Regions from separate parts of the Homo sapiens genome. Here region 2 is linked to region 1. Evidence: fine-mapped expression QTL. A gene starts in region 1. The other region holds a variant in brackets. All regions are shown on one strand. Distances are from middle to middle. Region 1 holds the start of FBN3 (fibrillin 3). Region 2 has its middle 21 kb from the start of CCL25.

Evidence for each region. PIP is the estimated chance that this variant, and not a neighbour inherited with it, causes the effect.
Region 2: its variant is the best candidate, but not a certain one, in a credible set for the expression of FBN3 in skeletal muscle (FUSION, PIP 0.62).

Annotation. Positions count from the first base shown.
Region 1 is chr19:8,147,051-8,152,414 of GRCh38, forward strand. FBN3 (fibrillin 3) reads right to left here and starts at 2,542. Exons shown (of 64, transcript NM_032447.5): 1 at 2,399-2,542; 2 at 264-447; 3 at 54-136. The coding sequence starts at 430. RefSeq lists enhancers at 1-728, 729-1,699.
Region 2 is chr19:8,029,257-8,034,620 of GRCh38, forward strand. No RefSeq gene overlaps it. Among named protein-coding and RNA genes, the nearest start is that of CCL25, 21 kb to the right of the region's middle. RefSeq lists an enhancer at 1-888. The variant GT/G (reference allele first, on the strand shown) is at 3,124.

The sequences.
Region 1 (5,364 bases):
TAAGAGTGTCCCCGGCCTGTGCCCCCCCACCTCCAGACGGCGGTAGCACTCACGTACGACACACTGGCTCCTGCCAGGGAATGTCCTCCAGCCTGGACAGCAGTAGGCATGGAACCGGGAGCCGCACACATTCGGCCTTCGGGGACAGCGAGATGGGTCTGGTGAGCCCCTGCCCGTGTGGACATCCCCCCGGGTATTCCGCTGGCCCCAGGACAGCCCAATCCACACCGAAGGGGTCTCCCAGCATCCCAGGTACCACGCACCCCTGCAAGATGCCTGGGCTGCCCCGCCTCCGCACACGTCCAGGACCTGCAGCCTCCAAGGCCCCGTCCCAGCGGCCTTGGCCACCTGCCATGCACAACAGGGCCGACCAGGCCAGCAGGAGCCGGGCCAGGGGGCCCCTTGCCAAATACAGACCCTCCAGAGTCATGGCGTGTCCCCTGGAGGCTGCGGAGAGGAAGCAGAGTCAGCCCTAGATGAGCCCCCCACCCTAGCCATGGGGGACCCAACACAACGAGGAGGGCAGGGTGGTTGCCAAATGGGGCAGCCCCGGGGCCTCTGGGAGCCCAAGGAGGCATCCAGCCCCAACCGGGAAGCGGTGAACAGTCAGAGGAGGCTTCCTGGAGGAGGTGTGATGTTAGAGAAGGGTCTTGGGGCTGAGGGTGCACAGCCAAGGCAAGACGGGAGTGGGAAGTGGAAGGGAGGGGAGAGAGGGCCAGGTGGGGCCAGGTGGGGCCAGGCGTTGCAGGAGTGGGCATAGCAGTGTCATGCAGCTTTTGCTCATTCGTCAAGGACAATGAAGAGCCCTTGAAAAGCTTTGAGTGGGAGGAGCAAGGTCAGAAATGCATGTTAGGTGGTGTGGGGAAGGGCAGCAGGGTCCCGGGGGGGAAACAGGGTGTCAGAAGGCTGGGGGCTGTCCAGATGGGAGAGAGAGGAGAGGAATGGGAGGCTCATGTCGTGGGAGGTGGAGGGCATTGAGGAGATTCCCAAAGTTCTAGCTGGGACGGTGGAGCCCAGAGAGCGTCCAGGGTAGGAGGAAGATGGTAAGTCGTGGAAGGCAACAACCCCACTGTCCCTCTGTGACACAGATACCCCCACTCCTGCAATGCCTGGCCCCACCTGGCCCTGTGTCCCCTCGCCTCCACATCCCACGCCGGTCTTGCCTGGGCTGTGCACCCTTAGCCGCAAGACCCTTTTCTAACATCACACCTCCTCCAGGAAGCCTCCTCTGACTGTTCACTGCTCCCAGGTCAGGGCTGGATGCCTCCCTGGGCAGGGGGCCCAGGCAGGGGCTGGAACTTCCCAATGCAGAGAGTAACCCTGTGCCCAGCAGGGAAGGGACCGCTTCTGTGCCCATTTCACAGATGCACAAACTAAGGCCATCACACCATGAGTGAGGGGCTAAGCCGGAGCTTAAGCCCACGAAGAGAAGAAGGAGGGGAAGAAGATCAGGAACGGAACTCGCTCCTGCCCCCCTTGGCTGGGTCTTTCCTGGGCCATGAAGGACGGGAGGGAGAAGACCGGGACAGGAGACGACCGTTTGGAGGGTGGAGGCAAAATACTTGAGGGAGAGAAGCCAGACCAAGTGGCCTTCCTGTTCCATTCAGGTTCCAGGGAGGAAAGGAACCGGCCCTAGGTGGAGAATGGGCGGGGAGCCCTGCTGTGTGGTCTTGGCCACGCCCCTCTCTGGGCCAACCTGGTTGTCCAAAGGCCCCGGAGAAGGGAGAGACCCCTGTCAACGTTGGAGGGTTGGCTGGCTGGAGAGGGGCGCCCTCTTTTTCTTCTCAGTTGTCCGGGTCAGTCCGCACTCTGAGGCTCCGTGGACTCCAAGCAGCCTCGGGGCTTGCAAGCCCTCCTCCCCCACTCCCTCCGCCCCAGCCCCCTGCCTCGGGTCGGGTGGGGGAATTAGGTGGGGGGAGTCTCTGGCCTGATTTGCCTCGGTCCCCCCTACACACCGCTGCTTCTGCGAGCCACACCCTGGAGTTTGTGGAATGAATGAGCAGAGAAGGCGCGCCCGGCACGGGGTGTGGAGGCTGAGGGCCAAACAGCGAGGGATACCAAGCTTCGCCGACGGGGAGGGGGCGCCCCCGGAGCCCGCGGGGCGCGATCTCCACCCGGCAGGGCCCCCGGCCGCGACCACGCTTGGCTCCGCCCTCACCTGTGGGGTCAGGGGCCCCGCGCCCCGGCCGAGCCCCTCCCGCCGGGTCCCCGCGCCCCCACTCCCCACTGCGGCGGGCGCCACTAGAAGGCGGAGAGGGGAGGGGGCTGGGCCCGGGGCTGCCCGGCTGCGAACAAAGGAATCCTCTCCCCCTCCCCCTGCCGGCCCCCCCGCCCCCGCCTTCTCCACCCTTCAGCGCCCGCGATCTCGCCCCGCCGCTGGCCCCGCGCCTTCACCTACCTGCGAGGCGGCGCGCGTGGAGGCGGGCACGGCAGGCGGACGCGCGGGACTCAGCGCTGCAGGGCGGGCTCCTGCGGCGCCGGGGACCCGGGGCGGGAACGCAAAGCCGAGAGGCCGACCCCGCCGCGTTCCCAGCCCAGAGCTGCCACTCGGGGGGGAGTTGGGGGCGGGAGGAGTTGGAGGAGGGCGCGTTTGCACCTCTTAGCTCCCGGGGCGGGGACGGGGGGCTCCGATCCGGGGCGGGGAGAGAGGCTGCGGCTCGGGGGAGGGTCCGGGGCTCCGAGTGAAAAACTCCGATGGACTGGAGGGATGTGAGGGCGGGCTGGGGGCGCCTAGTAGGGGCTGCCGGGGCCGCGTTTTCGGATCGAGACTAAGGTGGAGGTGGGGCTCTGACTTTTGGAGGGCCTGGACGACAGCCTGGGCAGAGAAGTCCCGGGACTCACCTGGGCGGCCCTCTCAGGGCCTCCCAAGCCGCCACCCCCTCCCTCGAGCAAGGAGAATTGCGAGAGTGACGTTGGAAACTCACCTGGCTCTTGGAGCCTGGATTCTTAACTAGGCTGAGATCAGGGGCCCCTAAATATGTTGACAAAACATTGGGCAAAGCTGTATTTCCCAGGGAGAAGGGCCCAGGTTTTTCATCTGGTTCTCAAAATGAAGAGGTTAACAATTCAAACGGTGTAAACTTTCAAATCTCTTTGAACCTGTTTGTCCACCTACCAAAGGGACCAGACAAGAATTTTGGCTCCCTATCTGTTGTCAGTACTCCAAACAAAAATTTCTAGGCTTTTCCACTACCTTCATACCTTTGAGAATAGACCCTTAACATGGGGATCTGTCAGAAGCTGTGCGTTGGGCCTGAAGCTGTTACTCCATCCAGCAAACTCCTACGCATCTGTCAAAGTCCAGTTCAAAAATTCCCTCCCTATCCGCAAATTGTGAGTTTACTCTATTGAACTCCCAAAGCTGATTGTGCTGAATATCCCCCCACCACAGTACTTCCGGAATCTAATAAATAAGTAAGCCCAGTGGGCTTGAAACCAGGAGTTCGAGACTAACCTGGGTAACATAGTGAGACCCCATCTCTAAAAAAAAAAAAAAAAAAAAAATTAAAAAGAATTAGCCAGGCCTGGTGGCATGCATCTATAGTCCCAGCTACTCAGGAGGCTGAGGCAGGAGGACTGCTTCAGCCTAGGAGGTTGAGGCTGCAGTGAGTTATGATTGTGCCACTGCACTCCAGCCTGGGCAACTGAGCAAGACCCTATCTCCAAAAATTGGAGACCCTGTCTCCATTCCGGAAGTGCTATGGTGGGAGTATATTCAGCAAGTCAGCTTTGGGAGTTCAATAGGGTAAACTCACAATTTGCAGGGAGGGAGAGGATTTTGTTTATGTTTTGTTTTGTTTGTTTTTTGAGACAAAGTCTTGCCCTGTCACCCAGGCTGGAGTGCAATGGCACGATCTTGGCTCACTACAACCTCCACCTCCCAGGTTCAAGCAATTCTCCTGCTTCAGCCTTCCGAGTAGCTGGGATTACGGGCTTGTGCCATCATGCCCGGTAAATTTTTTGTATCTTTAGTAGAGACGGGGATTCACCATGTTGGCCAGGCTGGTCTCGAACTCCTAACATCGTGATCCACCTGCCTCGGCCTCCCAAAGTGCTGAGATTACAGGCGTGAGCCACCGAGTCTGGCCCAGAAGGGGATTTTTGAAGTAGGTTTTGACAGTTGCATAGGAGTTTGCTGGAGGAAACAGAACAGGCAAAGGCCTGGAGAAGGAGAGAACTTAGAACAAACATGCCTGGATGGAGTGAGGTTGGAACTTTAGGAGAGAGGAGAAGGGGAGGGAGCAAGAGGAAAGCAGGAAACATAAGAAGAGGCTAGAAGCACCGAGGAGCCCTCAGCAGGCTCCCCCCCCACCTCTGAGGGGAGACACGGTGGACTCACAGAAAGGGGAGGTTCTCCCAAGGCTCCACTTCCAGGTCTTAGACTGTGTCCGGGGAGCATTGAGGGCCCCAGGGCTGGGCTCGGGGAGCATGGGACAGACGCCGACTTCAGGGACAAGATCCAGTCATCCTGGCCAAGGGAGGGGCCCGTGGACCCTGTGAGAAGGGTCAGGTGGGGTGCTGGGGCATGGGGAGGGTGGACTGGGGAGGGAACCCCAGGATGGAGGTGGCCCAGCAGAGACAGGGGGGTGGGGTTCCTGTTGGAGGGTGGGCCCAGGGGCTATTGTGGACAAACCAGTTTCCCCGGCCACCTTGGACACCTCTTTCCAGGCTCCTCTGCCAAGGTCCACCCAGATTTGTTCTGCAACAAATGAATCTTACATGGGCACGGGGACAAGCACCGGGTGCCCTAGAAGCAGCCCAGCATAGGTGCAAAAGGTGGGGAGAGATTGTCCCATCCCAGGGACACTGCACAGCCACTGTTGCCATGGCTAAGTCTGGAGGAGGGCTTTCCTGGAAGAACTGTGGGCCAGGGAGCGACTCAGTCCTAGAAGTCTCCCTACCTGCCCTCCAGAAGAGAGGGGAGAAGGAAGCCGGAGGGTGTGGCAAGACCAGGATGTGGAGCTGTTGGAAGTCACCGCAACTGAAGTGCTCGAAAACGGCAGATAGTGGGCATTGGTTGTTCACAGCCCCCAACCCAAGCTACTGTCCACACCGCGTGCTGTAGTTTCAGACTTCCCATGGTGCCACCCTGGTCTGTTATGTTATTGCCAGTTATTGATGTGGTATCACAGACAGTGTCACCCCCCACTGTACCCTTATTACATCACACTGTTAAGAAGGGACATTTAGGCTGGGCATGGTGGCTCACGCCTGTAATCCCAACGCTTTGGGAGGCCGAGTTGGGCATATCACGAGGTCAGGAGATCAAGACCATCCTGGCTAACACAGTGAAACCCCATCTCTACTAAAAATATAAAAAATTGCTGGGCGCGGTGGGTCACACCTGTAATCCCAGCACTTTGG
Region 2 (5,364 bases), 120 kb before region 1:
TCCAGCTGCCCCTGGTGGAAAGCCCCTCTGAGTCCGGAGGGATGAGGACAGAGGGATTCTCGCCCTCTAAGCTACTCTGCGGGCTGGCTGATTCTTCCTGGTAGGGGGCGGTCCTGTGCAGTCTAGATTATTTAGCAGCTCTCTGGCAGCCCACCGCCCCCCCAGCCTCCCAGTGGTGACAGCCAAATCTCTCTCCAGGCACGGGCCAGGTGTCCCCTGGGGAAAAATCGACCCCAGATGAGAACTGTACTTTCCCAAACAGAGCTTCCAGGTGGCGTCTGGGGTAGATATTTAGGATCCTGCTGTTCTATGGACTCTGTTCTCTCAGCCTGGAATCCTCTTCCCGCATAGCACAATCCCCCACCAGCCCTGCAATCTTCCAGAACTAAACCCACACATCACCTCCCTCAGGAAGTGTCCTGTGGGCCCCCCATCTTATGATTTTGGCCCCCACGGATGCTGTGGTAGGTAAAATAAAGCCCCTTTGGCCAGATATGGTGGCTTACACCTGTAATCCCAACATTTTGGGACGCCGAGGAGGGAGGATCACTTGAGCCTAGGAGTTAGAGACCAGCCTGGACAACATAGCAAGACACAGTCTCTACAAAAAAAAATAAAAAAATTAGCTGGGGCTGGGCGCGGTGGCTCACGCCTGTAATCCCAGCACTTTGGGAGGCCAAGGCGAGCGGATCACAAGGTCAAGAGATCGAGACCATCCTGGCCAAGATGGTGAAACCCTGTCTCTACTAAAAATACAAAAATTAGCTGGGCGTGTTGGCACGTGCCTGTAATCTCAGCTACTCTGGAGGCTGAGCGAGGAGAATTGCTTGAACCCGGGAGGTGGAAGTTGCAGTGAACCGAGATCGCACCACTGCACTCCAGACTGGCGACAGAGAAAGACTCCGTCTCAAAAAAAAAAAAAAAAAAATTAGCTGGGGCCGGGTGCAGTGGCTCATGCCTATAATCCCAGCACTTTGGGAGGCCGAGGCGGATGGATCCCTTGATGCCAGGAGTTTGAGACCAGCCTGGCAAACAAGGTGAAACCCTGACTCTACTAAAAATACAAAAATTAGCCGGGCGTGGTGACACATGCCAGTAGTCCCAGTTCTACTTGAGAGGCTGAGGCAGGAGAATTGCTTCAACTCAGTGGGGGCAGAGGTTGCAGTGAGCTGAGATTGAGCCATTGCACTCCAGCCTTGGCTACAGAGCAAGACCCTGTCTCAAAAAAAAAAAAAAAAAAAAAATGCTGGTCTTGGTGGCTCACGCCTGTAATCCCAGCACTTTGGGAGGCTGAGGCGGGCAGATCACCTGAGGTTGGGAGTTCGAGACCAGCCTGCCCAACATGAAGAAACCCTGTTGCTACTAAAAAATCAAAATTAGCTGGGCGTGGTGGAGCATGCCTGTAATCCCAGCTACTCAGGAGGCTGAGGCAGGAGAATTGCTTGAACTCGAGGGGCAGAGGTTGCAGTGAGATGAGATGGAGCCACTGCACTCCACCCTTGGCTATAGAGTGAGACTCTGTCTCAGAAAAAAAAAAATGAGGAGGCAGGAGGGTCACAGTCAGAAAGAGACTGGAAGAGGCTGCGCTGCTGGCCGTGAAGGTGGAGGAAGGGGCCCCAAGATGAGAGCTGTAGGTACCTCTAGAAGCTGGGAAAGGCTGAAAATGGAGCCTCCAGGAGGAACCAGCCTCATCAACACCTTAATTTTAGGACATCTGACCTCCAGTGCTGTAAAATCATAAATCTGGGTTGCTTTAAGCTGCTCTGTTTCTGGTCATTTGTTTCAGCAGCCACGAGAGACTCATACCAGCCTCTTCTCTGCAGCCCCGAGTCAGCCCTGGAGAGCTGCCGGGCAGTCGGCCTGGCATTTGCCTTTCCTGGCATGAGCTTTGTAACCCGGCAGAGCTGCTGGCCGTGGCAAGCATCTCCTAGGAGATGGGAGAACTCAATGGAAAAAGGTTTCAGAGTCAGGGCTTGGGTGGACCACATTCCTTCAAGCTTTATACCATAGAGAGCTTTGTTAGGGAGGTGGAGAAGCAGACAAAGTGACTCGTGTTCTCTCCAATTTATTTATTTATTTAATTTATTTATTTTCAGACGGACTCTCTCTCTGTTGTCCAGGCTGGAGTACAGTGGCTTGATCTTGGCTCACTGCAACCTCTGCCTCGTGAGTTCAAGTGATTCTCCTGCCTCGGCCTCCCAAGTAGCTGGAATTACAGACATGCACTACCACACCCAGCTAGTTTTTTGGTATTTTTAGTGGAGACAGAGTCTCACCATGTTGGCCAGGCTGGTCTCCAACTCCTGACCTCAAGTAATCCGCCTGCCTTGGCCTCCCAAAGTGCTGGGATTACAGGCGTGAGCCACCATGCCCAGCCCAAATAATTGTTTTAAAAGGCCAGGCTGGTGGCTCATATCTGGAATCCCAGCACTTTGGGAGGCTGTGGTAGGAAGATCACTTGAGCCCAGGAGCCCGGGATTCCCAGGCTGTAGTGAGCTATGATCGGGCCACTGCACTCCAGTCTGGACGACAGAGCCTACCCCCATCCCTGCCCCCCGAAAAAGTTATTCCTATAAAGACCCAAGGGCCCAATCTTTGTTTCATGGTACCTTTGTTCTTTATTTCTTACTACTTATTCATTTTTAAATATTCTGAATAGTCAAAGTCAAGATGTAGCTGACTTTGAAATGCTTCCCTGCCAGGTGCAATGACTCACACCTGTAATCCCAGCATTTTGGGAGGCTGAGGCAGGAGAATTGCTTTAGCTCAGGAGTTCAAGACCAGCCTGGGCAACATAGCGAGATCCCTGTCTCTACAAAAAAATGACAAAGTTAGCTGGGCATGATGGTGCACACCTGTAATCCCAGCTACTTGGGAGGTTGAAGTGAGAGGGATCACTGGACCCCAGGAGTTTGAGACTGCAGTGAGCCATGATCACACCACTGCACTCCACCCTGGGTAACAGAGTGAGACCCTGTCTCAATCAATCAATGAATCAACATTTTAAATATGAAACATTTTCCACATTCTTCAACATGTCCTAGGGCAGTCCTTGTTCCCTTTCCCTAGGACAGCTCATTTTTGAATTTTAGAAGCAATGCTAAAGGGAAAATGTGTCTGTGT[GT/G]TTTTTTTTTTTGTTGTTGTTGTTGTTTGTTTTTGTTTTTTTTGAGACAGAATCTCACTCTGTTGCCCAGGCTGGAGTGCAGCGGCATGATCTTGGCTCACTGCAACCTCCACCTCCTGGGTTCAAGCCATCCTCCTGCCTCAGCCTCCCTAGTAGGTGGGACTACAGGCATGCGCCACCATGCCTGGCTAATTTTTGTATTTTAAGTAGAGATGGGGTTTCACCATGTTGGCCAGGCTGGTCTTGGACTCTTGATCTCGTGATCTGCCCGCCTCAGCCTCCCAAAGTGCTGGGATTACAGGCGTGAGCCACTGAGCCCGGCCGGGAAAATGTGTTTTAAGTTTCAGTTAGGCCAGGTGCAGTGGCTCACGCCTGTAATCCCAGCATGTTGGGAGGCCTGTAAGAAATAAAGAGGAAAGAAACACAAAAGTTGGCTTGCCAGTCAACACAGGTTTATTTTAGAGAAAACAAACCTGAGAGGAGTATTCCAGGCAAGTTGAGTCAGAGGCAAACTCTCTTACAGACTAAGAGGTTTTTTTGTTTTTGGGTTGTTTGTTTGTTTCTTGTTTTTGTTTTGAGACAGAGTTTCGCTCTTGTTGCCCAGGCTGGAGTGCAATGACGTGATCTCGGCTCACTGCGACCTCTGCCTCCCAGGTTCAAGCTATTCTCCTGCCTCAGCCTCCTGAGTAGCTGGGATTACAGGCATGTGCCACCATGCCCGGCTAATTTTTGTATTTTTTAGTAGAGACGGGGTTTCACCATGTTGGCCAGGCTGGTCTCGAACCTCGTGATCTGCCCACCTCAGTCTCCCAAAATACTGGGATTACAGGCATGAGCCACCGAGCTCAGCCCAGACTAAGAGTTTTAAGGATTCAGGGTGGGAGAGTTTATCAGAGGCTTGGACTGCTTCTGTGTCTCTTTGTTGTGCTTATCTGGGAGGGAGAGTTGCGTGTCTGTCCCCATACATCTTCTTGCAGCTGCAGGCATACCCGCCCCCCAAAAACCCCCACCGGGAGTCTGCCTTTGGCTTCCCTGTTTCAGTGCACCTGAAGGGAAAGGAATGTGCTTATTAAGTAAGGCCCCACTGTTTTACTGGGGCCCATTGTATGAGGGTGAAGTTTGGCAATTACCCAACAGACTTTCCCCCTATTTCCCTCTGTGCCCGAGCTGTCTTATCTGTGTTTTACTGCCTGCTCTTTCTGGCTGCTTGTAGTTAGAAGATAAGTGATATCCTTGAAATGTAAGAGGCTAGAGAGGGAGCTGGAACTTAAAGTGGTGGGGTTTGTCCAAGATGACAGTGCTTCTGCTCTGTCATTCCAGACCCTATAGTTGTAAAAGGACAAGGGGCGACGTGTTCTTTCTGGCTACTTCCTGCTGTTGTGGGGTGGAGGGGAGACACGGAGAGTTTTTTGGTCTTGGATTGCCTGCAGGAGCAATATTGTGTGTAGATGTTTTGGTAGTTGTCTACGAAATGGCCATAAAGGGTAAAAACATTAGTCCTAGGCTTTTCAGCAGCGTTTTTTTTTTTTTTTTTCTTTTGAGACGGAGTCTCGCTCTGTCGCCTAGGCTGGTGTGCAGTGGCGCGATCTCAGCTCATTGCAAGCTCCACCTCCCAGGTTCATGCCATTCTCCTGCCCCAGCCTCCCAAGTAGCTGGGACTACAGGCACGCGCCACCACGCCCGGCTAATTTTTTGTATTTTTAGCAGAGACGGGGCTTCACTGTCTTAGCCAGGATGGTCTTGATCTCCTGATCTCGTGATCCGTCTGCCTCGGCCTCCCAAAGTGTTGGAATTACAGGCGTGAGCCACTGCGCCTGGCCTTCAGCAGCGTTTCTTATTAGGCCTAATTGGTTGAGACAGAATCAACATTTTTTTCCCAATGACAGGCAGAGGCGCATGTTTGGGAAGACCCATGTGTTATTTGTTTGTTAGCAACTGTTATTCCTGGTATGAGGATAATAACTAAGCCAAATGCTACGGTAATTGAGACTCTGTGTCCGATATTCCACCCTGAGGGTACTACAGTATATAGTCCTTCTGCAAATAGTAGACTAAAGCAATTCCCATGAGGGTGGCATAGTAAATAATTTCCATTAAAAAGGTTTTAATATTTGGCTTAAAAGGAGATGTAGAAATGACAAAAAGTATTTGGTGAGGTAGGGGTGAGACTGAAATGAGTAATTTCCACTTAGTTACTTATCTTTTTTTTTTTTTTTTTTTTGAGATGGAGTCTTGCTCTA